5 linked regions of the Homo sapiens genome follow. The protein of the gene in region 1 purifies or fractionates together with the protein of each later gene. This does not show direct contact. Each region holds a gene or a part of one and is shown on either strand. Other genes may lie near its edges. The genes, in order: UGT2B7, PXMP2, GALNT10, CYP4F2 and RBP3.

Evidence for each region.
Region 2: the proteins of UGT2B7 (region 1) and PXMP2 purify together in Homo sapiens (co-immunoprecipitation; one study listed by IntAct). This does not show direct contact.
Region 3: the proteins of UGT2B7 (region 1) and GALNT10 purify together in Homo sapiens (co-immunoprecipitation; one study listed by IntAct). This does not show direct contact.
Region 4: the proteins of UGT2B7 (region 1) and CYP4F2 purify together in Homo sapiens (co-immunoprecipitation; one study listed by IntAct). This does not show direct contact.
Region 5: the proteins of UGT2B7 (region 1) and RBP3 purify together in Homo sapiens (co-immunoprecipitation; one study listed by IntAct). This does not show direct contact.

What each region holds. Positions count from the first base shown.
Region 1 is NC_000004.12:69,105,725-69,110,251, reverse strand, and holds part of UGT2B7 (UDP-glucuronosyltransferase 2B7 isoform 1 precursor), read right to left. Parts: intron 3,078-4,527; coding exon 2,990-3,077; intron 2,150-2,989; coding exon 1,930-2,149; intron 1-1,929. UniProt on the Homo sapiens protein: UDP-glucuronosyltransferase (UGT) that catalyzes phase II biotransformation reactions in which lipophilic substrates are conjugated with glucuronic acid to increase the metabolite's water solubility, thereby facilitating excretion into either the urine or bile.
Region 2 is NC_000012.12:132,697,272-132,701,798, reverse strand, and holds part of PXMP2 (peroxisomal membrane protein 2), read right to left. Parts: intron 550-4,527; coding exon 430-549; intron 1-429. UniProt on the Homo sapiens protein: Seems to be involved in pore-forming activity and may contribute to the unspecific permeability of the peroxisomal membrane.
Region 3 is NC_000005.10:154,417,419-154,422,197, reverse strand, and holds the end of GALNT10 (polypeptide N-acetylgalactosaminyltransferase 10), read right to left. Parts: 3' UTR 1,214-4,779; downstream 1-1,213. UniProt on the Homo sapiens protein: Catalyzes the initial reaction in O-linked oligosaccharide biosynthesis, the transfer of an N-acetyl-D-galactosamine residue to a serine or threonine residue on the protein receptor. Has activity toward Muc5Ac and EA2 peptide substrates.
Region 4 is NC_000019.10:15,880,833-15,885,359, reverse strand, and holds part of CYP4F2 (cytochrome P450 4F2 precursor), read left to right. Parts: intron 1-4,527. UniProt on the Homo sapiens protein: A cytochrome P450 monooxygenase involved in the metabolism of various endogenous substrates, including fatty acids, eicosanoids and vitamins.
Region 5 is NC_000010.11:47,346,052-47,351,162, reverse strand, and holds the start of RBP3 (retinol-binding protein 3 precursor), read right to left. Parts: upstream 2,801-5,111; 5' UTR 2,679-2,800; coding exon 1-2,678.

The sequences.
Region 1 (4,527 bases):
ATTGCCCACCACATATCACTTCAGATAACTATTCGACATGCTCTAGGAAAATGTGTCTTCAAGTTGATATATATGATACATATATGTTTATTGTGTGTGTATGTATGTGCGTTTGTATCATTTTACATTATAAGATTCCATTTGTTAATTGTGTTCTTCAAATGTTTTATGTCTTTACTAATTACTTGCTCTTTTCTAAAGTCTGTTTAGATTGAGTGAAAGTATTTGTATAATCATATTTAAATCTACCAATTTGCTTTATATATTTTTTTTCTATTTGTCCAAGCTGGTTTGTGTTCTTTTTCAATTATTTCCTATCTTCTTTAAAGGTATTTTTATCATTCATTATCCTTCTTTTTTTGTGATAAAGTATTTTTCAAGTATTCCTTTAGATGATACCCTGCTTATATAAAAAAACATTATTGATAGTAGCTATAAATGCTGAATTGATGGTAGCTGGACTCCACAAGGAATTTTGCACATTGATATCTTTGGGTTTGAAAAAATCAATTATTAAAAATTTAACTTAAAATTATATTTTTTGTGCTTCAAAGACCAACATCAAAAAGTAAAATTTAGTGCACCCAGAGTGGGACAAAATATTTACAAGTTATATATCTGACATGACCCATAATATATAAATAGTTCTTAAACTTAATAATAAGACAAATAGCAAAGTTTAAAAATGTTCCAAGGATTGGATAGACTGTTTTCAAAGAAGATATATGAATGATCAGTAGGCACGTATGAAGATTCTCAACACCTTTAGCCGTAATGAAAATGCAATCCAAGACCAGGATGAGAGATCATTTTACACCCACTAAGAAGGCTGTAACAAAAAGTCAGGGAATAACAGGTTTGGCAAAAGTATGGAGGAATTGGAACCATGTTGTACTGCTGGTGGTAGTCATGAATGAAACAAGTACTTTGGAAGACAGTTTAGCAGTTCTTCATAAACATACAGTTCCCACATGAAGCAGCAATTCCACTTATAGTATCAACCCTAAAGAAAGGAAAACATGTTTATGCAAAAACATGTGTAGCAATCTTCCTAATAGCCACAATTGAAAACAATCAAAAGGCCAATGAACTGATAAGTGAACAACTAAAATATGACATATCTTTACTAAAAAATATTAAACTGCTATAAAAAGAAATGAAGTATTAAAACACACAACAACATGAATGAAACTAAAACCAGAAAAAAAAAACAACAAAAAATTAGCCTAGGTGAAATGTCATTTCACAACACCCTAAACTGTATGATTCCATTCATATGAAATATCTAAAGAGAATAATCTATAGAGAAAGGAAACAAATTAGTTAGACCAGGGCTAAGCGGTCATAGGAAGTGACTTCTGTGTCATTGCAGTTTCTTTTGTGTTGATAAAAATGTTCTAAAATTATGTAATAGTGATGGCTTCATGGCTCTGTAAACATACTAAATATATTTGGATTTTATAACATAAACAGGGGGGTTTTATGCTATCAAAATTAAATCTCATTTTCAAGTCTGTTACAATAATGATAATAATAAAAGTTAATTTTTCAGCAAGAAAATGGTTATACTCTGAGGTGTTTTAGATATCTAATTAAAATATTTTATTATATTATTTCAGGTTTATTCTTCCTTTCTTCTATGGATTAATTATGTCAAATTTTTAAGAAATGTATTTTTTGTATTATCTATATCCTTTTAAAATTATTTTTGTGTAGAAAATTGTTTCACTAACTGGCTATTCTTTAGATGTATGTGTTTCAAATTCAATTTTTAAATAACTTATAAAAATAAAAGCAGATTTCAGATTGGTTAAATCATTTAAATTCTTTCAAAATTAGTCTCTTATAAAAAGGATGAAACTCACACTCACTATTGACAAGAGAAGCTATCTGTAAATACCACCTAGTGAAAAATATTGTTCTACTCACGAAGGATCATTAATTACTCTCTTCAATGCATTCAGCAAGTCTGTACTCGACATTGTGTTGAAGTCCACTCTAACAGCTGCTCCCCTGGCCTTCATGTGAGCAATGTTATCAGGTTGATCGGCAAACAATGGAATCCCCACCATAGGGATCCCATGGTAGATTGCCTCGTAGATGCCATTGGCTCCACCATGAGTTATAAAAGCTCTGGTCTTTGGATGACCTAGGATTGGATGAATTTTAGCAAAATTACTCATAGGAATAAAATGAGATGCACAATGAAAGGCTCTGAAAGTGACAGTGTTTTCCAGCTAAAACACTGAACTAAATTAAAATTGTGTTTCAGACTTCGGAGGAAAAAACACGTACTTGTACTGGGTATGTAACTGAAGGCTATACGGTGTGTGTGACTTCAGACTGCAAAACAATACAAGATTTCCAGTTGGGCTAATGAAAAATTGCATTCTAGATTTCAAAAATGTGCAAAAAAGAAGACAGCAAAGAGATAGGCATGAAGTGAACTCTTATTTTAAGTGCAGTCACAGAGTGTGATATATGGGGTGGGCAAGGCAGCAGGCAGTGGTTTGGTGGTGGTGCTAGGATTGAGGAAGGACAGGTCACACTTCATCGTGAAATGTATCATCACTGTATGATTAAGATTAGCAGTTTAATTCTTCAGAAAATACAGAGTCACTGGTGATAGAAGAGCTATTATTTTTAGTGGCATTTCAAATAACCCTGCGGGAGAGGAAAAAAACAGGTGTAAAGTTGTAGAAATAGGAGACAGAGAGACAGCCCAGGAAGTTATTGAAAAATTTTGTGAGATATAATAACACCTGAAATAAAGATTCCCCCGATTCAGACTATAAAGAATGTGGGTGTATATCATAAAATGCCAAAAATTATAATGTATTCTTTCTCCCTTAAGACTGGAAAATCAATATAAAGAAGTTACATTTTGTTTTTCCTTAACAAATATTCAATAAGCTTGTTTCATGATGAACTATTAACACTCTAATGTGCTGTTACTAATATATTCAGTATTTGTTCACCAGAGTCTTACCTAGAAGGTCATTCTGGGGTATCCACTTGTAGAGCCGAGTATTGAGACCTAAGGTATCTGGTTTATTCCCATCAAATCTCCACAGAACCTGTTACAATAAAGAAAATATTTTATTCCATGAGTGGAATTCAAAAGTTATAGAATGTGAGAACTGTATAAAGAGTAGGAATGAGATCAAGGGATGTTAGTAAATAAGAACTACTCAAAGACTAATGTAAATAGAATACTCACATTAATTTTCTCAACTTTTATAATTAGTTAGGTATATAAGGAAATCATGATTTTCCAAAATAGTACCTTAGAAAAAATCAGATTATCAATGAAAATTTCAAGCATTTAAAAAATTGTTACACCTTTTAAAAGAAAACCTACGTGTGGCCAACCATCATATGAAAAAAAAAAAGAAAAAAGCTTAACATCATTAGAGAAATGCAAATCAAAACCATAATGAGATAGCATCTCACACCAGTCAGAATGGCTATTATTAAAAACTCAAAAAATATCATGATACTGGTGAGGTAGTATAGAAAAGGCTTGCTTATAATCTGTTGGTGGGAATGTAAGTTTGTTCAACCATTGTGGAAGACTGGCGATTCCTCAAAAACCTAGAGGTAAAAATACCATGAAACCCAGCAATCCCATTACTGGGTATATAACCAACGGACTATAAATGGTTCTTTTATAAAGACCCATGCACAGGTGTATTAATTGCAGTACTTTTCACAATAGCAACGACATGGAATCAACCTAAATGCCCATTGATTATGGGCTGAATAGAGAAAATATGGTACATATACACTACAGAATATTATGCAGTCATAAAAAAGAACAAAATTATGTATTTTGCAGGGATATGGATGGAGCTGGAGGCCATTATCCTTAGCAAACTAACAAAGGGATGGAAATATAAATATGGCATGTCCTCACTTATAAGTGGAAGGTGAAAGATGAGAACATGTGGACAAATAGACAGGAACAACATACACTGTGGTGTATTGGAGGGTGGAGGGTGGGAGGATCAGGAAAAATAATTAACTGATTTTAGCCTTAATATCTGGGTGATGAAACGAACAGTACAATAACCCCCCATGACACAAGTTTACCTATGTAAAAAAACTACACATGTCCCCTTGAACTTAAAATAAAAGTTACAAATAAAAGTTAAATTAATTTAATTTTTTAAAATTAAAAATATTCTAAAAATGTATAAAAATTTTAGCTATTCCTTATAATTCTAGTGTAAAAAATAGTAACAATTTTGTAATGACCTGCGTGCTTATTTTGTTTTATGTATTTTATATTAGTTTTCATTTTCCAAATTTAATTTTAATGTATTCATATCTTTTTGAGTAATTTGGGAAGTAGTTCACATGTATCTACTTGTGTGTAGGTTGTTATATTAGAGCCTGTTGTCCTTTGATTGACAAAATAACAAGTCCATAAATAAGCTACTTATAAGAAATAGATTAATGCTGCAAAGGTTTTATGTATAACTTCATTGGAATTATAAATTATCAAGCACTACTTCCAAAATAAAT
Region 2 (4,527 bases), on another chromosome or scaffold:
AAGTATAACTAGAGTTTATTTGGGCCAAGTTTGAGGACTGCAACCCAGGAGCATAGATTCAAGTTGCCTGCATGTACATTCCTGGGACTGGGAATGTTTCAAAGGCTAGAAAACTCATAGGCATCCCTGGCATGGGGGCTTTTAATGAGAATTTGCTGAACGAACAGAAGAGGCAAAGACGACCACTCGGGACACCCTTCTCTGTTGCTTCCTGAATCCCGAACTAGCAATGATTCAGGGTCATGGGCAAAATCCAAGGGTAGTTGAGGAGTCTAGACACGGATGAAACTAAGTCTAGCGGAAAACTACCAAAGAAAGAAGAGAAGAGAAAAGAAGAGGGGAGGGAGGGGGGGAGGAAAGAGGAAGGAAGGAAGGAAGGAAAAGGCTGACAAAGTAATGTTAGCAGAGGCTGAGCCCCGTGGCCCTCACCTTCAGAGGGACGTAGTTGATGTTGATGAACTGTAGTGGCGTCCACACCCGCCAGTTCATCCTCAGCGCCGGCCAGAAGCCCCCCCTCATCTTGGCGGCGAAGGCTGAGGCGTCTTTCCCCTGCAAAGGAGGGAAGGCGGGTGGTGAACAGTCTCACTGCCCATCAGAACTGAATTCCGGGCACCCAGACCCTATCGTGATGGTTTTTAAACTGCTATTGGATTTTGTTCTGTGTGTACGCAGACAGCACACATGTGTACTCAGCACTGCGGCTCTAAGGAGCCAACCAGCAAGATGGAAAATGATCAGTGAGATGCCAGACAGCAGCCTGCTCATGCTGGCAGTGATGTCTGTCCTGGCCCAAAACTCCTTGCGGACAACTGGAGGAGGTGACTCCCAAGGCTGGCCCTGGGCACCAGAACTGCTACTCAGAGCTACGCTGTCAATTCCTCCCAAATAACCTCCAAAGTCGATGTCTTTCCAATCAAAACTTGTTAGGAGTTATGAAAAAAAAAAAAAAAGGACTCCAGTAAGTTCATTCTAAATGTCAGCTGGTGGATTCAAGACCTGAACCCAAGACCTGACACCATAAAGATCCTAGGAGCAATTCCTCTGGACGTCCGCCAAGACAAAGAATTTGTGACTAAGTGCTCAAAAGCAAATACAGCAAAACCAAAAACAGACAAACAGGACTTCATTAAACAAAAAAGCTTCTGCACAGCAAAAGAAACAATCAACAGACAGTCTACAGCCTGGGAAAAAATATATGCATATTATGCATCCTACAAAGGACTGTTATCCAGAATCTGTGAGGAACTTACACAACTCAACAAGAAAGAAATGAATAACCTCATTAAAAAAGTGGGCAACGGATACAAACATTTTTCAAAAGAAGAAAAACAAGTGGCCAAGAAACATATGAAAAAATGTTCAACATCACTAATCATCAGAGAAATGCAAATTAAAACCACAAGGAGATACCACCTCACGCGAGTCAGAATGGCTATTATTAAAAAGTCAAGTGGCCAGGCGCGGTGGCTCATGACCGTAATTTAAGCACTTTGGGAGGCTGAGGTGGGCGGATCACGAGGTCAGCAGTTTGAGACCAGCCTGACCAACATGGGAAAACCCTGTCTCTACCAAAAAAAAAAAATACAAAAATTAGTTGGGCATGGTGGCGTGTGCCTGTAATCCCAGCTACTCAGGAGGCTGAGGCAGGAGAATCACTTGAACCCGGGAGGCGGAGGTTGCGGTGAGCCGAGATCGTGCCACTGCACTCCAGCCTGGCTGACACAGTGAAACTCTGCCTCAAAAAAAAAAAAAAAAAGGTCAAAAAACAATAGATGCTGGCAAGAATGTGGAGAAAAGTGAACACTTACACACTGCTGGTGGGAATGCAAATTAGTACAGCCCTTCTGGAAAACAGTATGGAAATTTCTCAAAGACCTGAAAATAGAACCACCATTCGATCCAGCAATCCCACTACTGGGCCTCTACCCAAAGGAAAAGGAATCATATCAAACAATCCCTGCCCTCGTGTGTTTATCACAGCGCTATCCACAACAGCAAACACGTGGAATCAACCTAAACGTCCCCCAACAGAGGACTGGATAAAGAAAAAGTGCCATAAATACACCACGGAACACTACTCTGCTATAAAAAAAAGAATGAACTCGGCCGCGCACGGTGGCTCACGCCTGTAATCTCAGCACTTTGGGAGGCTGAGGCAGGAAAATCGTTGAACCTGGGGGGCGGAGGTTGCAGTGAGATGAGATTGCGCCACTACACTCCAGCCTGGATGAAAGAGCGAGACTCTGTGTCAAAAAAAAAAAAAAAAAAAAAAGCATGTCTTTTGCAGTGACGTCGATTGAACCGGGGGCCATTATCCCAAGTGAAACAACTCACCAATGGAAAGTCAAACACTGCATGTTCTCACTTTTTTTTTCCAAGACAGGGTCTCGCCATCTCACTCTGTTGCCCATGCTGGCTGGAGTGCAGTGGCGTGATGTCGGCTCACTTGGCCTCAACCTCCTGACATCAAGCCTCCGTCTCAGCCTCCTGAGTAGCTGGGACTACAGCCATGTGCCACCACAACCCTTTGATTTTTAATTTTTTTGTAGAGAAGGGGTCTCACTCTGTTGCCCAGGCTGGTCTCGACATCCTGGGTTCAAGTGACCTTCCTGCCTCAGCCGATGTTCTCACTCATAAGTGGTGGCTAAACAGTGGGTATACATGGACCAACAGAGGGAAATAACAGACACCAGAGACTTGAAAAGGTGGCGGGGAGAAGAGGGTTGAAAATCACCACTGACTACTTGGGTGATGGGAAGTAAAAGCTCAGACTTCACCACAGCACAGTCACATAAGAAATCTGCACTCGTACCCTCTAAATATATACAAACTAAAAAAAATTTTTAAAGAAATGCTTAAATATTTTCTTGTTTAAAGTAAGGGGGAGAAGCTGGGTACAGTGGCTCATGCCTGTAATGCCAAGGTGGGCATATCACTTGAGGCCAGGAGTTCAAGACCAGCCTGGCCAACACAGAGGAACCCCATTGCTACTAAAAATACAAAAATTAGCCAGGCGTGGTGGTGGGCGCCTGTTGTCCCAGCTACTCTGGAGGCTGAGACATGAAAATCACTTGAACCCGAGAGGCGGAGGTTGCAGTGAGCCGATATTGTGCCACCACACTCCAGCCTGGGCGAGAGTGAGACTCCATCTCAAAAAAAAGAAAATAATCCAGCAAAAGAACAAAGAGTGCAGATAATTGCCTGTACAGATGGAAATGAGAATATTTCAAAATACTGGGGATTGCCCAATAAATGGTAATGAGAAAATTTGCTATGTAAGTGGAAAAATCAACACAGAAGTCTATCTCCTACTGTACACAAGTAAAACCATAAGAATACCGGAGGAAAGCAGAGGAGAATATTTCTATTATCTTCCTGTAAGGAAAGGCATGAAGGAGAATAATGTCATGTTTGAATACATGAACCTTTATAACTTCTGTATGGAGAAGTGAATGGTTAAAACAAATTTACTTTCAGGACAGAAGGTGACGCCAGGTGCAGTGGCTCACACCTGTAATCCTAGCACTTTGAGAGACCGAGGCGGGTGGATCACGAGGTCAGGAGTTCAATACCAACCTGGCCAAGATGGTGAAACCCCGTCTCTACTAAAAACACAAAACAATTAGCCGGGCATGGTGGCGGGCACCTGCAATCCCAGCTATTTGGGAGGCTGAGGCAGAGAATTGCTTGAACCCAAGAGGCGAAGGTTGCAGTGAGCTGAGATCACGCACTACACTCCAGCCTGGGCAACAGTGTGAGACTCCGTCTCAAAAAAAAAAAAAAAAAGGTGACACGTCTCAGACACACAGCACAACCTGGCTGGTGCTCCTAGAGATGGTGAGGATTTGAAGGTGCTCGTGAACGGGGGAGGTGGGACAGTCAGAACAGACACACCTGCTGAGTGCAGGTGAACACGCCTCCCATGCGTTGGATTCTGACTGGGATTATGCCGGTAGGTTAACCTCCAGGCCCGGAACTCTTCTGTGTTATCAGTAGGGGTCTCAAACTTCTTGTGCCACAGATCTCTTTGGCAGTTTAGTGAAGCCTGTGGACCCCCTTCTCAGAATGTTTTGTAATCTATAAAATAAAATACGGCTGGGCGCAGTGGCTCACGCTTGTAATCCCAGCACTTTGGGAGGCCAAGGCAGGCGGATCACGAGGTCAGGAGTTCAAGACAAGCCTGGCCAACATGGTGAAACCCCATCTCTACTAAAAATACAAAAATAAGCTGGGTGTGGTAGCGGGCTCCTGTAATCCCAGCTACTCAGGAGGCTGAGGCAGGAGAATCGTTTGAACCCGGGAGGCAGAGGTTGCAGTGAGCTGAAATCGCACCACTGCACTCCAGCCTGGGCAACAGGGCGAGATTCTGCCTCAAAAATAAAAAATAAATAAATAAATAAATAAAATAGGACTACAAAGGAACCAATAATACTGAAATACAGTTATCAAAATATTCAGAAAAAATTTTGACAGACTAATGTGTTTATTTATTTATTTATTTATTTTTGTCTTTTGAACCAGTGTCTT
Region 3 (4,779 bases), on another chromosome or scaffold:
GTCTACAAAGCTGTAAGGTGTTATTGTGTGAGGATAACATGAGCATGGGCATACTGAAAACCTGGATGGACTGTGTCAGTCACCACCATGTCATCTTGGGTCAGAATTTCCCCTTTGTGTTATTCAGCCTTTGTCAAGCCATGGTCCATAGCACCCTCTGGTGGTCCCTGAGTGACAGCATGAGGGGGCAGCTTCCAGCTTCTGTTCATTGTCACCCGTAGCCCCCAACCAAGACTCAATCATAGGACCACAGGTGGAGCTGGAAGCATCATCCAAAAACTTGTCATTTTACTGTGGAAAACAGGCCTAGTTGGAAGCAGCATTTGCACAAGATCTCACTGAGTTTTTTTGTAGAGCTGGGCCAGACAGTGCTCTTCCTACCATATCTAATACCTGATAGCATGAAAATGTTTTGGTAAGCAAGTACTCATGCCTGTTGGGTAAGCATCAGAAATGAGTTACAGCTGGGTGTGGTGGCTCATGCCTGTAATTTCAGCACTTTGGGAGGCTGAGGCAGGAGGACTGTTTGAGGCCAGGAGGTCAAGAACAATCTGGGTAACATAGCAAGACTCCATCTCTACAAAAAATAAAAAAAATTAGATGGGCATGGTGGTGTGTGTCTGTGGTACCAGCTACTAGGGAGGCTGAAGTGGGAGGATCACTTGAGCCCACAAGTTGAAGGCTGCAGTAAACTATGAGTGCCACTGCACTCCAGCCTGGGTGACAGAGGGAGACCCCATCAAAAAAAAAAGTTATGCTTATTTCATATTGTCACTGCCCTCCTGAGATCCTCCGCTCCTGGGTGTGACCCTTTGTGGGCTGCCCCACGTAACTCTTCAAGCTAACCTCCTTCTGCTCCTCCAACACAGAAACTTCTACTTACCTCAGGGCCTTTGCACTAGCTGTTCCCTCTGCCTGGAACTCTGTTCCGGGAAATCATCTTGGTTCACCCTCCTTCATGTCTTTCAGCTCTCACCATTCTAGCTAACGTTGACCCCCACTCCAGTCTCTAATATATCATTGCTTTATACCCTTCATAGCCCTATTTGCATCTGAAATCATCTTAGTTGTTTTAGGTCTGCCTTTCACTCTAGAATGATGGCTGTTGGGAGTTTTTAGTACCCAGCAGAATGCCTGAGTCCGAAGTAGGTGGTCTACGTGAAGAATGATGAAAAGAAGAATGACACATGAGAAGGAAGAAGGCAGAGACCACTTTAGAGAAAGTCTGGAGGTTTACTCAACAACGTTCACAATCACAATTGTACATGGTAAATCAGTCTTTCACAAAGGCTTATTTTTCCAGGCAGGAGGAGAGGCTGGTGGTCTTGAGCTTTTGGCCTGGAATTCCAGTCTGAATTTTCAAATATTCCCTGCCTCCAACCCCTTTGGGATCCTAGTCTTCAAGCCAATAACAGAGCAGGAGTCTGACCCTGTTCTGTTGCCTGGCACGGCTGAATCAAAGCCATTCTGGAAGCAGATGTTAAGGTGAACTTGTCACTTGGTATGTAGGTCCGACTCCCATCCCAGAGGTGGCAGTGGGCCTTGGCTCAAGATCAAGTTTGAACTAAAATATTACTTGGATTTTTCACAAAGAGTGTCCGTTGAAAGCAATAAGGAATTCCAGAACAGAACTGCACTTCTTGTCCCTCTCTCACACTTACAAAGCTTCAGAAAACATTAAAAATGCATTACCTCCTAGGAATTACAAAAGATCACCCAACTGTACAAACTAGATATCGCTGAAGCAGAGACTCTGATTCCTCAGTTACTACTGTAAAGTGCTTTGCCACTCTTTTTGAGACTCCAGAGACTAGGAAAATGGAGATGCACAGAGAGACATAAGGAGCTGTTTTCCAAGACATCACCTGTTTCTTAAGGAAAAAAAGAAATTCAACTGGTGGGAAGTTTGAAAAGTGAATGTCATGTAGACTTTGGAAATCCATTTGTTACATCTTTAACAGAAACTGCTCTTTCTCTCCTGGACCGAATGTCACATCCTCTCGTCCGATTCCTCCTGTGGATGTACCCCGTTCTGCCTGAGCATTTTTTCCTAAAGGGAAGAATCAATAGTTTCTGACTGTTTTAACAGCTGAAAGCTCCAACTGGAGGCAGAAGATGGGATGGCTTTTCACACACGTGCGTGCAAGTTTAGCCACCTCCAAAGGCCTTGTTCTTAAAGCAACAGTGCTGTTTGCATTATGAAATGTCTCTGGAGTTCCCCTTTGGAAAGGCTGCTGGTGGGCCACATGGTCACGATACTTTCAAGTCACACCCTACTTTGTGACCTTATCCTCAGAGTAAAGGCTTTAGAGGAAAAGGGACCCCACAGTCTCACCCATTACCTGGCTGTCAGCATCTCCATATGCTCCTGGCTGAGTTTTATTGAGCATCAGCTGGGGATGTGAGCAGAAACCTGAATCCTTGAGACAGGTGGTTTTCAAAAAGGAAGCCATAACAATGAGTGGCTTAGTACTGGCAATTGATCAGTTGGTCCATGAAATGGAGCCAGTCAAGTTCTGTCCTTCCTTCCCCTCCCACATACTTTGTCAAGTCCCAGGACCTACTGATATGGGCTCAGCAATGACAAATGCCAGAGTGCTCAGAGGACACACCCATCCCTTTTCAGGGTGTGAACCCAGACTGGAAAGGAGAACCAAAGGATGGGAAAGGCAGGCCCGGGACGGCTTGCTGCTGCTCCTGCTTTCACAGGAATCCTGGTCATGCCAGGAACACTGCCGCCCACTTGGGGTGGGACTATGTGGAAGTCTAGCTAGTGCTCGGCACCCCTTAACCCAATGGTGAGAAACAGGACAAACATGCTGGGGGTTCAGAGGGTGGACCGCAGGGATGGCCCCCAAACAGGTCCCAGTGAGGTAATGCAAGGCCTCCTCTCGGGGGCTGATGAGGTCTTCTAGGCCACAGACTAAACGCACTGCCCAGCCTTTAGTTTGGAGTGTGACTTGCACTGACTGAAATAAATCTGACCTGTCACCCTTGGGGGACATCTCAGTCTCAGATCTTGCTCCAGACCCAACATCTCCTGCTTGAAATGAGACATTAAGAAACACACACTCATCCAGTAGGAACTGCACACACCACCAAAAACGTTCCCCTCCCCACAACCCTGCCCCTTTATGTTTGTCTAGCAAGGCACTAGGAAATGGTTCAAGTTTAGGGATTTGCTCTATATTTGCATTTTTCTTTTTAAAAGGCACAGTTTTTATTTTAACGACGCTGCATTGCTCTTTGATGATGAATCTCAATTCGACTCCTCAAACTGTCAACACTCTTGTTATCCTAGATTCTAGAAGGGGCCTCATCTTTTGACTTCTTTCTATAGAGGGCCACTTCTAAAGCTACAGCACTCATTTGGAAAAGGACACTGGGATCAACACGTAAGCGTTGCAAGCACAGGGGCCGCCTCTCTTGCAGACAGGTGGCCAAAGCAGGGCTTGTGCTGGGCCAGAAGTGGAAGTAATTCCTCGCCAGCTACACATTCAGTCTGACTGGTGGATGATTGGGAGTGTTTGTCCCTCCCTCCCCCAATAATTGATGGCCTTGAGATCTGCCAGCATCTCAAAGGCAGATTCGTGGCTCTGTTCCCAGACTTAGGTCTCAGTTATTTAATTGGTAAATGACACAATCAAGAGACTCAACACTAATTGGAATGCTGATTTCAAGTATTTCCTGGGCTAGCTGGTGGAAGCCATAGATTGTGGAATGTGATTTCCATTTCTGAATCAGTGGGTGGCAGGTTGGTTACAGAAATGCTTCCTATTAGTCTGGAGGCCCTCTAGGAGTCTGACATGTAATTAACAAAGCAAAAGGTAAACATGAAGGGCTGGCATGGAGCTGGGTGTATATCTGGCTGTGGGACGTCGGGTTCTTTTCTCCACTGCAAATGAGACTACAGTTGTGATGATGGTGGGAGGTTCCAGGGGTGCAGGTCTTCACCAAGGACCATGTTGTACCACAGCCTCTGCTGAGCTGAGGGACACATGTCCCCCTGCTTTCCCAACACCACCAACTTTGGATTTCACAGATTGTCTCTAGGCTGGGGGCTGCCTTGACTGTATTACACCTGGCTGGCTCCTTTAATCACAGCATTCTAGAAATCCATATTGGATGTGGAATACCAGAATCCTATGTAGCATCCTAGTTTGCAATCCAATTATAGAGTTCTTTAAAAATTCTGGAGTTCTGTATGAGAACTAGAACCATGATGAGGTCAGAGGCAGGCACTTTGCCCACAGTTGATCCTGGAGGCCTCCAGACTCTGTGAGGTGAGCACCTCGCAGCACCTCTGTTCCTCTTTTGAGGCCAGTAATTGCCTGGGGAAGAGAGACAGGGAAATGGAAGCATGGATCAGGGCAAATCAGCCAGCATTTCTAGTTTGGAGGTCTACCTGGCCTTTTCCGTGGGCTCAGGGCCATCTGAAACACTGCCCTGTAAAGCTGGTGCTGGGCTGTCCTTGTGCCTGGAGAGTGCTAAAATTGACATTTCAAATACCCAGAGAGCAGGGGGAGATATCCCGCATGTCCATAGCTGCAAAGAAATGTCTAGGGGGGCTCCCTCTTCTGACTCCTCACCTGGCAGCTGATCAGCATTCAATACTGAACACTCTTAGGGCCCCAAGTATGGCCTTTGACCGGACCAAATCACCTGGGGTTGTGACAGAGAACAGAAGCTGTGCAGTAACTGCAATGTTCCCCCCAGGACGGCAGAAACTAAAAAGCCCCAAGAGGACTTCTTTCTCTTCTGCTGCAGATGAGTGGCATC
Region 4 (4,527 bases), on another chromosome or scaffold:
CCAGGTGCTCCCAGCCTGGTGGTGGAGCTGTCCCTGGGCAGGACACTCCCAGCCCACATGGGCAGAGATGGGATTTACAGTAAGAGAAGCAGGACTAGGGGGTATAGAAAGTGTCTCAGTTGAGAGCCTAAATAATGATCAGTAGATAATTGGGTACAGTTGGGGGGCAGTGCTCTAGGTCAAGAAGACTGCCTGGGGTCTTTGGGGGAGGAAGAGAGAGGGAGGAAGAGAGAGAGGAGAGCGAGGGAGAGAGAGAGAAGGAGAGAGAGAGAGAGCAGGGTCAGGACAGAAAGGAGGAGAAGGGGAGAGAGAGGGAGAGACTGAGTTGTAATGAGATGATAAAACCGGAGATGGTAGCAGGGGCTGGCTGTGGAAGCCTTGGGGAAAATGTTAATGGCTTCAGTTTTAGCCCAATGGCAATAGGGAGCCATGGGAAGTGTTTGAGCAGTGTAGGGACAGGTCACATCTGGGTACCAGGAAGATCTTTCTAGGGCTAGTGTGGAGGGCGTACTGGAGAGGACCAGCTGTAGAATGAAGGCACAGTGGGGACATTCTGAGACCAGAGCCAGGCCAGGGGCTGGAGGAAGGAGAGGAAGCATTGGAATGGACGGATGTCTTGGATTCAGTGTCCTCTCGTCCACACCTTTGCCCAGCACAGCAGTCCAGTGAGGAGGAGAAACATTTTTCTGCTTTTAAAACCAATAATTTTTCTGCATTTTTAACAAACAATTTTTTATTGCTGCATAAATAGATGCACATAGATTTGAAATACATGTGATAATCTAATACATTCATATAACTGGTAAAGATCAAATCAGTGTACTTGGGATATCTGTCGCCTGAAATATTTAGTCTTTTCTTTATGCTAGAAACATAACTAACATAAGCTAACTATTTAGGAATATACAGTACATATCGTAAACTATAGTGAACCCACTGATCTATCAAGTGCTAGGTTTTATTTCTCCTATCAAACCTCTTATTTATGCCCGTTAATCAACTTCTCCTCACCCCTCCCTCCCTTCTACCAATCTACCTTCTACTTTCATGAGATCCACTTTTTCAGCTCCCACATGTGAGTGAGAACATGCGATATTTGTCTTTCTCTTTTTGGCTTATTTACTTACCACAGTGACCTCCAGTTCCATCCATGTTGCCACAAATGACAAAATTCCAGTGTTTTTAATGGTGCATAGTATTCCATTGTGTATACATGCCACATTTCCTTTCTTCCTTCCTTCCTTCCTCCCTCCCTCCCTCTCTCTCTTTCTCTCTTTCTTCTTTCCTTTCTTTCTTTCTTTGAGACAGAGTCTTGTTCTGTCGCCCAGGCTGAAGTGCGGTGGCACGATCTTGGCTCACTGCAACCTCTGCCTCCCGGGTTCAAGCTATTCTTCTGCCTCAGCCTCCCAAGCAGCTGGGACTATGGGTGCACACCACCATGCCTGGCTAATTTTTGTATTTTTAATAGGGCTGGGGTTTCACCATATTGGCCAGGCTGGTCTCGAACTCCTGACCTCATGATCTGCCTGCCTCGGCCTCCCAAAGTGCTGGGATTACAGGCATGAGCCACCGCACCCGGCCGCCACATTTTCTTTATCCATTCAGTTGATGGGCACTTAGGTTGATTCCATATTTTGGCTGTTTTGAATAGTGCTGCAATAAATACGGAAGTATAGATATCTCTTCAACAGTTTTATTTTCTTTCTTTGGGATAGAAATTTCTTCTCTTTCTTTTCAGTAGTGGAATTTCTGGGTTATATGTTAGTTCTACTTTTAGTTTCTTGAGGAACCTCTGTGCTGTTCTCTGCAGTGGCTGCGCTAATTTATATTCCTGCCAACAGTGTGTGAGAGTTCCCCTTTCTCCATATCCTCACCAGTGTCTATCGTTGCCTGTCTTTTTGATAAAAGCCATTTTAACTGGGATGAGATGATATCTCATTGTGGTTTTGATTTGCATTTCTCTGATGATTAGTGACATTGAGCATTTTTCCATCTATCTGTTGGCCATTTGTATGTCTTATTTTAAGAAATGTCTATTCAGATCTTTTGACCATTTTTAAATAAGATGATTTGAGTTCTTTTTCCCCTATTGAGTTATTTGAGCTCCTTATATAATATATTCTGGTTATTAATCGCTTGTCAGATGAGTAATTTGAGAATATTTTCTGCCATTCTGTAAGTTGATTCTTCACTTTGTTGACTGTTTCCTTTGCTGTGCAGAAGCTTTTTACCTTGATGTAATCTCATTTGTCTATTGCCTGTGCTTTTGAGGTCTTAACACAGAAAATCTTTGCCTGGACCCATGTCCTGGAGTATAAAATCCAGATTTCAAGCAAAATTATGGATGTGGTTAAAAGAAAGGGTCCAAAAAATTTTATGATAAAAATGAGCTTCCTTATTAAGCTCCACCTTAGCAGTGACTATGGTCAACAGTTTTCTGTGTATTCTTCCAGAAAATGGCTATCCCAATGCCCACATTTATATGAATTCACACTGTGATTTTTATTTATATGAACACATACTGTGTTTTTCTTTGTAAAGAAAACTATACAAAATAGACGCAGTTCTGGACATTATCTCTGAGATCTATTTTTCTTAAAATACGAGTTTTCAAAAATGAGTTTGTTTTTAAATTGTTCTTTCATTGATAAATTTTAATTATATATATTAGAGGTACAATGTGATGTTATGATGTATGTATACAACCTGAAATTATTAAATCAAGGTAATGAACAAATCCATCACTTCATATATTTATCATTTTTATGTTGAGAACATATATATATTAGAGGTACAATGTGATGTTATGATGTATGTATACAACCTGAAATTATTAAATCAAGGTAATGAACAAATCCATCACTTCATATATTTATCATTTTTATGTTGAGAACATTTGAAATTTACTCTCTTAGCAATTTCAATTAATACATTGTTCACTAAATCACCATGCTGTGCAGTAGATCTCAAAAACTATTCCTCTTGTCTAACTGAAGCTTCTATCCTTTGACCAACATCTCACCCTTCTCTATCCCTCCCTCAGCCCTGGCCTCTGGTAACCATCATTCTGCTTCTATTTCTTTTCTTTTCTTTCTTTCTTTTTTTTTTCATTTTTGAGATGGAGTCTCGCTCTGTCACCCAGGCTGGAGTGCAGTGGCACGATCTCAGCTTACTGCGACCTCTGCCTCCCAGGTTCAAGTGATTCTCCTGCCTCAGCCTCCTGAGTAGCTGGGATTACAGGCTCCCGCAACCACGCTTGGCTAATTTTTTTGTATTTTTATTAGAGACGGGGTTTCACCATATTGGACAGGCTGGTCTTGAACTCCTGACCTTGTGATCTGCCGCCCTTGGCCTCCCAAAGTGCTGGGATTACAGGCGTGAGCCACCGCGCCCGACCTCCACTCCTGTTTCTATGAGCTTGACTATTTTAGGTCCCAAGATAAGTAAGATCATGTGTGTTTGTGTTTCTGAGCCTAGCTTACTTCACTTAGCATAAGTTCCTCCAGGTTCTTTCATGTTGTGGCAAACAAAATAAGTTTTCTTTCTTTTTTTTTTTTTAAGGCTGAATGGTATTCCATTGTATATACACACCACATGGAAAATGAGCATTAAATTATAAAACCAGTGATAAGAACAGATTCTTCTTGCACCAAATGAGATATTACAGATAAGACTAGCTTTTTCCTTGACAATCCTGCCACCCCACCTAATCCTTTCTCATTCTCCAAAGGTGTCTCCAGAGCCATAGATTTGTTATCTATCTATCTATCTATCTATCTATCTATCTATCTATCCATCATCTATCTATGTATCTATATACCTATCTACTATCTATATATCATCTATGTATCTCTGTTTCTATCATCTATGTATGTATCTGTCTATTCTCTATCTCTCTATATCTCTTATTTATTATCTGTCATCTATCAATCTATCATCTATCTCTGAATCATTAATTTCATAAATATATATTCATATACTTTTTGCCCTTTTTATGTGCACAAATGTATATATTTGTAACTTGTTTTCACTCGACAGTGTGTCTTAATGCTATTTTTTTCTGAATGCTAAATATTTTATTCCTTATTTATTCAGCTCATTCCTATGTTGAATGCACATAAACATTTTCAGTTATAGTAGATATTTCCAATTTGCCTTCCACAGTGTCTGTACTGATTTACCTTCCAGCCTGCAGAATGTGATGAGACTAGTGATCCCTATTTCCTCCTTTTGTGTAGCTGTATAGTATTCCATCGTGTGGCTGTTTATCTAAACATCTTCCCATCAATGTGTATGTGGCTTGTTTCCAACCTTTTGCTAAAAGTGGACATGAGGCAGTCAGCATGTGTGCACAGTGACCATTCCTTGCATGTATAAGCATCTCTGCAGGACAAATTCCCTGAAGTGCAATTGCTGAATCAAAGAACATTTGCACTGTACAATTTTAATTATCATTGCAAATCCTTTCCTATTAGCTGAGTTTGATGGCACAAGTTTTCCCATAACTTTACCAATACTACTAATGTA
Region 5 (5,111 bases), on another chromosome or scaffold:
ATGGATGCATATAAGGGGCTGCTGCCCACCTGGTAGATGCCCACAGAGAGTGCGCCTCCGGCCGTGGGCTCCCCAATGACCGTGGCCCGCTGCAGGTCCTGCATGGTGTGTGCAAAGGCCTCGGCCGCAGAGCCACTGGTGTGGCTCATCAGGATGTAGAGGTCCTTGTGTGAGCCGTAGCGCTGGCCGGCGACCTGGGGCAAGGTCCACACCTCCGTGACTTTTGAGGTGGCCCTGTCAAAGACAGAATACAGGTGCTGGCGGGGCTCTGCCTCAAAGAAGTAGGAGCAGAGCAGCGGGATGGCCGTGGAGTAGCTGCCAGGGTTGTAGCGCAGGTCGATCACCAGCGCAGCCGTGTCCACCAGCTGTTGCCATACCAGCCGCACCAGCTGTGGCCCCACGGCCTTCACTGTCTCCAGTTCAGCCATGGCGTCAAAACGCAGGTAGCCCAGCTGGCCGGGCAGCACCTCTGTCTTGAACAGGGCCTCAATAAGGTAGGTGAGCTCCTCTGGAGAGGGGACAGCAGGGGGTGGTGGGGGTGCTTCCTCTACCACCAGCTCGCCAGGGCTGTGGAACACTAGCAAGCGGTGGTCCCCAGACACCTCCTGGAGGTCTGCTGTGAGCTGAGAGGCCAGAGACTCCAAGTCCACAGCTGTGCGGTAGGCGCCCTGGGCCAGCTTGGCCCGCAGGAGGGCACTGGTCTGCCCCACGACCTCTGGCCGAGCATAGTGGGCCTCCAGCAGGTGCCCTGTGCCCTCCACCAAGGCCCCCAGGCTTTGGTGGAACTCCAGCACTTCCTGGGCTTTGTCCAGGGCCTCCTCGGCCAGCACGATGGCATCGGGCACCACTCCACCACCCAGCCAGGCCTCGCCGTGATTGTCGATGAAGGTGAGGACCGGCACGGTGAGCGCGAGGCTGCCTTCGGGTGTGTCCAGCAGCGGCACCGTGCGGGTGTGCAGCAGGTTGCCCGCGGTGATCTCACCTACCAGTGTGGCCCAGCCCAGCGACTGCATAAGGAAGGCGAACTCCTCCGCGGCCGTGGCGGTGCGGTGGCTGGTGAGCAGATACACCCCACGTTGGGTGCTGTAGCGTGGGCCCGGGAGCTCCATGTGGCTGAAGTGCTCCTGCGTGATGTTGGTGCGGCGATCATAGGTGGTGAAGAGGTGCACGGGGCCGGCCTCAGGGCCCTGGAAGTAGGACAGGAGCAGGGGCACAGCAGAGGATGGCCCTCCAGGGTTGTGGCGCAGGTCCATGATGAGGTGCTCCGTGTCCTGTAGCGGCTCCCACACCTGGCGCAGGACATATGGGGCCAACACACCCAGGACGGAGGCGTCAGCAAAACTATCGAAGCGCAGGTAGCCCACATTGCCTGGCAGCACCGACACCTGGAACACAGAGTCCACCAGTGCTTGCCGGATAGCCTCGTCCTCAGGCAACTCTGGGGCCACCCCTGGTGAGTCTTCGGCTGCAGCGTCGGGCGCGGGCCAAGAAGGAGTTTCTGTGGGCCCGATGGCTCGCACCAGGAGCCTGGGATCCTCAGACGCAGCCTGCAGGCCGGCATTGAGCTTGGTGACCAGATCTTCCTCGGAGACCACCGTGGAGAAGTCCATGCTGGCCAAGTGCTGCAGCAGGGTGGGCACACGGTCCACCAGCGTGTAGTAGTCCTTCAGGACCTCCTGGAGGCAGTGGACTACCCCTGGAAGGGCGCTGCGCAGAGTGAGGATGGCCAGGGCTTTCTCCAGGGCCTGCTCGGCCGGAGTCCCCACACAGGGCAGCACCCCGCTGCCCTCCCACGTCTGGCTGCCTCCACCAAGGGGCCCCAGGGACCTGGACACGGGCACCGTGAAGAAGAAGTCAGACTCGCCTATCCTCAGCTTCCGGAGGTCCAGGGCCCCTCCCCCAGTCCGCTCGCCCACCACGATGGCCCTGCGCATCTGCTTAAGGATGTGCGCGATGTCCTCGGCCACGCCCCTGGTCTGGCTGCTGGTGAGGACCACCACATCCTTGTCGGCACCGTACCTTTCTCCCAGGACCTGGGGCAAGGTCCAGATCTCCGTGGTGGTGTTGGAGGGGCGGTTGTAGATAGTGTCCACGTGCAGGATGGTGTTCCCTGGGTGCAGGTAGGAGATGATGTAGGGAATGCCAGAGACCTGGCCTCCTGTGCAGTGCCGGAGATCCAGCACTAAGGCGGAGGTGCCCATGAGATTCCCCCACACGTGGGCCACCAGGAACTCCCCCATCATGCTCAGCACCTCCTGGCCCGGGACGCTGTCCACCCGCAGGTAGCCCACATTACCCTCCAGAACCTCATGGCGGAGGCCCCTTTGCAGCCAGGCAAGCAGTTCCTCTTCTGAGAGGCTGGTGAGTGCTGGGACTTGTGGGGGAGGCTCGGGGGTGCTGGGCTCATAGGAGATGACCAGGCGAGGATCGTTCAGGGAGCTCTGCACCCCGGCTGTCAGCACACTGGCCAGCGTCTGCGGGTCTGAGATGCTCAGAATCTCATGGCTCTTGATGGCCTGCTGGATGGCTTCCTGCATGCCCAGCAGGTTCTCCGGGAAGCAGTAGTTATCCAAGAGGACCTTGGCCATGTCCAGCACCAGGCTTGGCTGGAACAGGTGTGTGGGGCCAGCCAGGCCACAGAGCAGCACGGACATGAGCAGAACCCATTCTCTCATCATGGGGACCCAGGGGGAGGCCTGGCTCCTGCACAAAAGCTCCCTGGACTGTGTGCAAGGCCGTGGCCCTGCTCTGTGCAGCTGCCTTCCGCCCTTGTCCTTCTCAGCTGGTGGACAGAAGGTCTGGGGCTAAACTCCTGAGTTGGGGCAAGGCTTCCAGCTCCAGTAAGCCTTTAATCCTGTCTAATTCAAGCACATCAACCCTGGGTATCGGGGAGGAGTGGCCAGGGTGGTTTGACCCAGAAGGTACATTGCATCTTATCTTGCTGTGTTGTGTCTGCATATCATAACATTAATCACTGCCATTATTTTAGTTCCTGCTACATGCCAGACACTGTGCTCCATCCTTTACAAGCTGACAGTTTCCACCAGAGCCTTGCAAAGTCCAGTTATTAACTTGCAAGTCCTCCTTGGAGAACTGTTCTGCCACTGTCTCTCCCGTGGCCTCAGGGAAATGTCTTAATTACTTATTGTGTAGATTAAATGAGAAAATATGTGTAAAGCACTTCTTCCCAGTACCCAGTAAGTAGGAAGCACTCATTACTGGTAAGTTATCTGTATTAGATATTACCTCTGTTTCATAGCTAAAAAACAAAAAAACAAAAAAACAAAACAAAACAAAGCAAAGCAAAACAAAACAGGCCAGAGAGTTCTGTAACTAATAGAAGCCCATCGTTTTAGGTGTGGACAGATAGGGGGTGCAGCAAGAAGAAGTCCTTGGGGCTACAATTGGCCCATACAGTGCAGAGGCTGAGTCTGAGGCTGGCATCAGCCTCAGAGCTTGAGATTTATTTCTATGTCCCTTTAATGCCTCCAGGGAACAGAACGGGTCCCCCTACAGCTTTCTAATGCTGGGAATGATGTGTCTGGACCACCATGTAGGGTGTGGAGTGTAGAGGCGCCCACCTTCCAGACATCACAGGACTAGTGTTCCCATTCAAATGAGGTTAGCTCTGAGAGTTAATGGCTAGAGGGGACTCCTGCTTCTTGAAGGCTCAGCCCACAGCCTGCAGTTCGCAGGGAGAATCAAGCAGGAAGTCTTGGGTCTCCGTGGTCCCAGGCTTCACATGGAATCCAGATCATTCCTCCTGACTGCATAAAGCACAAGAAACAGGGAAAGGTAGACTGCTGAACTCTTCAGATCCCAGCTCCTGCCACTTCTTATAGAAATAATGTGGGTGCTGCTTGCAACTGACTGGCTGTAGAAATCCAAGAAGTCCTGCTATGGGGTCGGAACCTGGAAGCCCTGCTTTGCCGCTGAATGCCTCTGGAGATGGGCACTTTCCTCACTTAACAGACAGACAACTACGGCCCAGAGAGTGGTCGCAAGGCCAGGGCAGAGCGTTGGGAGAGCTGTCCCAAGCTGGCTCCAGCAACACCGCCTTGGCTGAGCGGGCAGCAGGCAGGCGCCCCTGTGTGCCTCAGTAGGCAGCTGGAGAAGGTGGTCTCAGGGACGTGGGCTTTCTCTACACAGCTGAGACCCACAATCTGCTCTTTGGAAATCATTATCTGAGGATGTTTACCAACTGCTTTATGAAGGCCAAAGAGGTCAATTAGCTAAAACAAACATATTTTTAGCTCATTAGGATTTGTGTAATGCTCAAGTGACATATGGTCACATCACTCCACCGTATGCAGCCAATGGAAGTGAGCCTGATTTACGATGAGAATGGGGTGGGGCTGGGATGCTGCCAACACCTCCGGATGAATGCACTCCTTGCATATCCTTAGCCCTGCTGGGAAGCCTGGGCCTTCTCCTCTGCCTCCACTTGGAGAATCACAGTTCTGAGCATGCACTTCCGTGTCCTCAGAGGGCACTTGTCTGCCATTGCTTGAGTCCAGGCAAAGCTTCTGGCCCAGAAAGGGCTTGGGGGAGAACAGGAGTAAGACTGTCTTTGGGGAAAGGATTCCCTGGAGTCTTACTAAGATGTAGTTTCAGGATAGGATTGTCTGGACCTATCACTGGGATTTGATTTGTGTGGCTAGCCCAGAGCCTTAAGAAGGACGTGAGAAAAAATCAGACTGTTGCAAGTCCCTGGGGTGCCTGAGTTGGATGGGGCATGGGTAGAGAAGCAGTGCTTCTCCTGTGGGTAAGGCCCAAGCAGGTGGAAGAGCAAGTTCTGTCCTCAGAGTTCTCCAGACTCCAGGGGGCCAGGGTGTCCTTGCCCCCAGGCCGTGGGGGGATGTAGGAAGATGGCAGCCAGCCTCCTTAGCTCATGAGGAGAATATGTTCTGGGTAAGTCCCCAGAGTGAAAGCCGAGAGCTCTACATCTTCCCATCCAGACCCTGACAACTGTAGGGCCAGGGTGGGTTCAGAGAGTCCACTTGATCTTGGGGGCTGAGTTTTGGAGTTGGAGGGGGCTGGAAGGCCCTGCACCCCCTCACTTATACAAATGTCCTGTGGGCAGAGCTGTGCAGGGTAGCTTAGAAGCCATC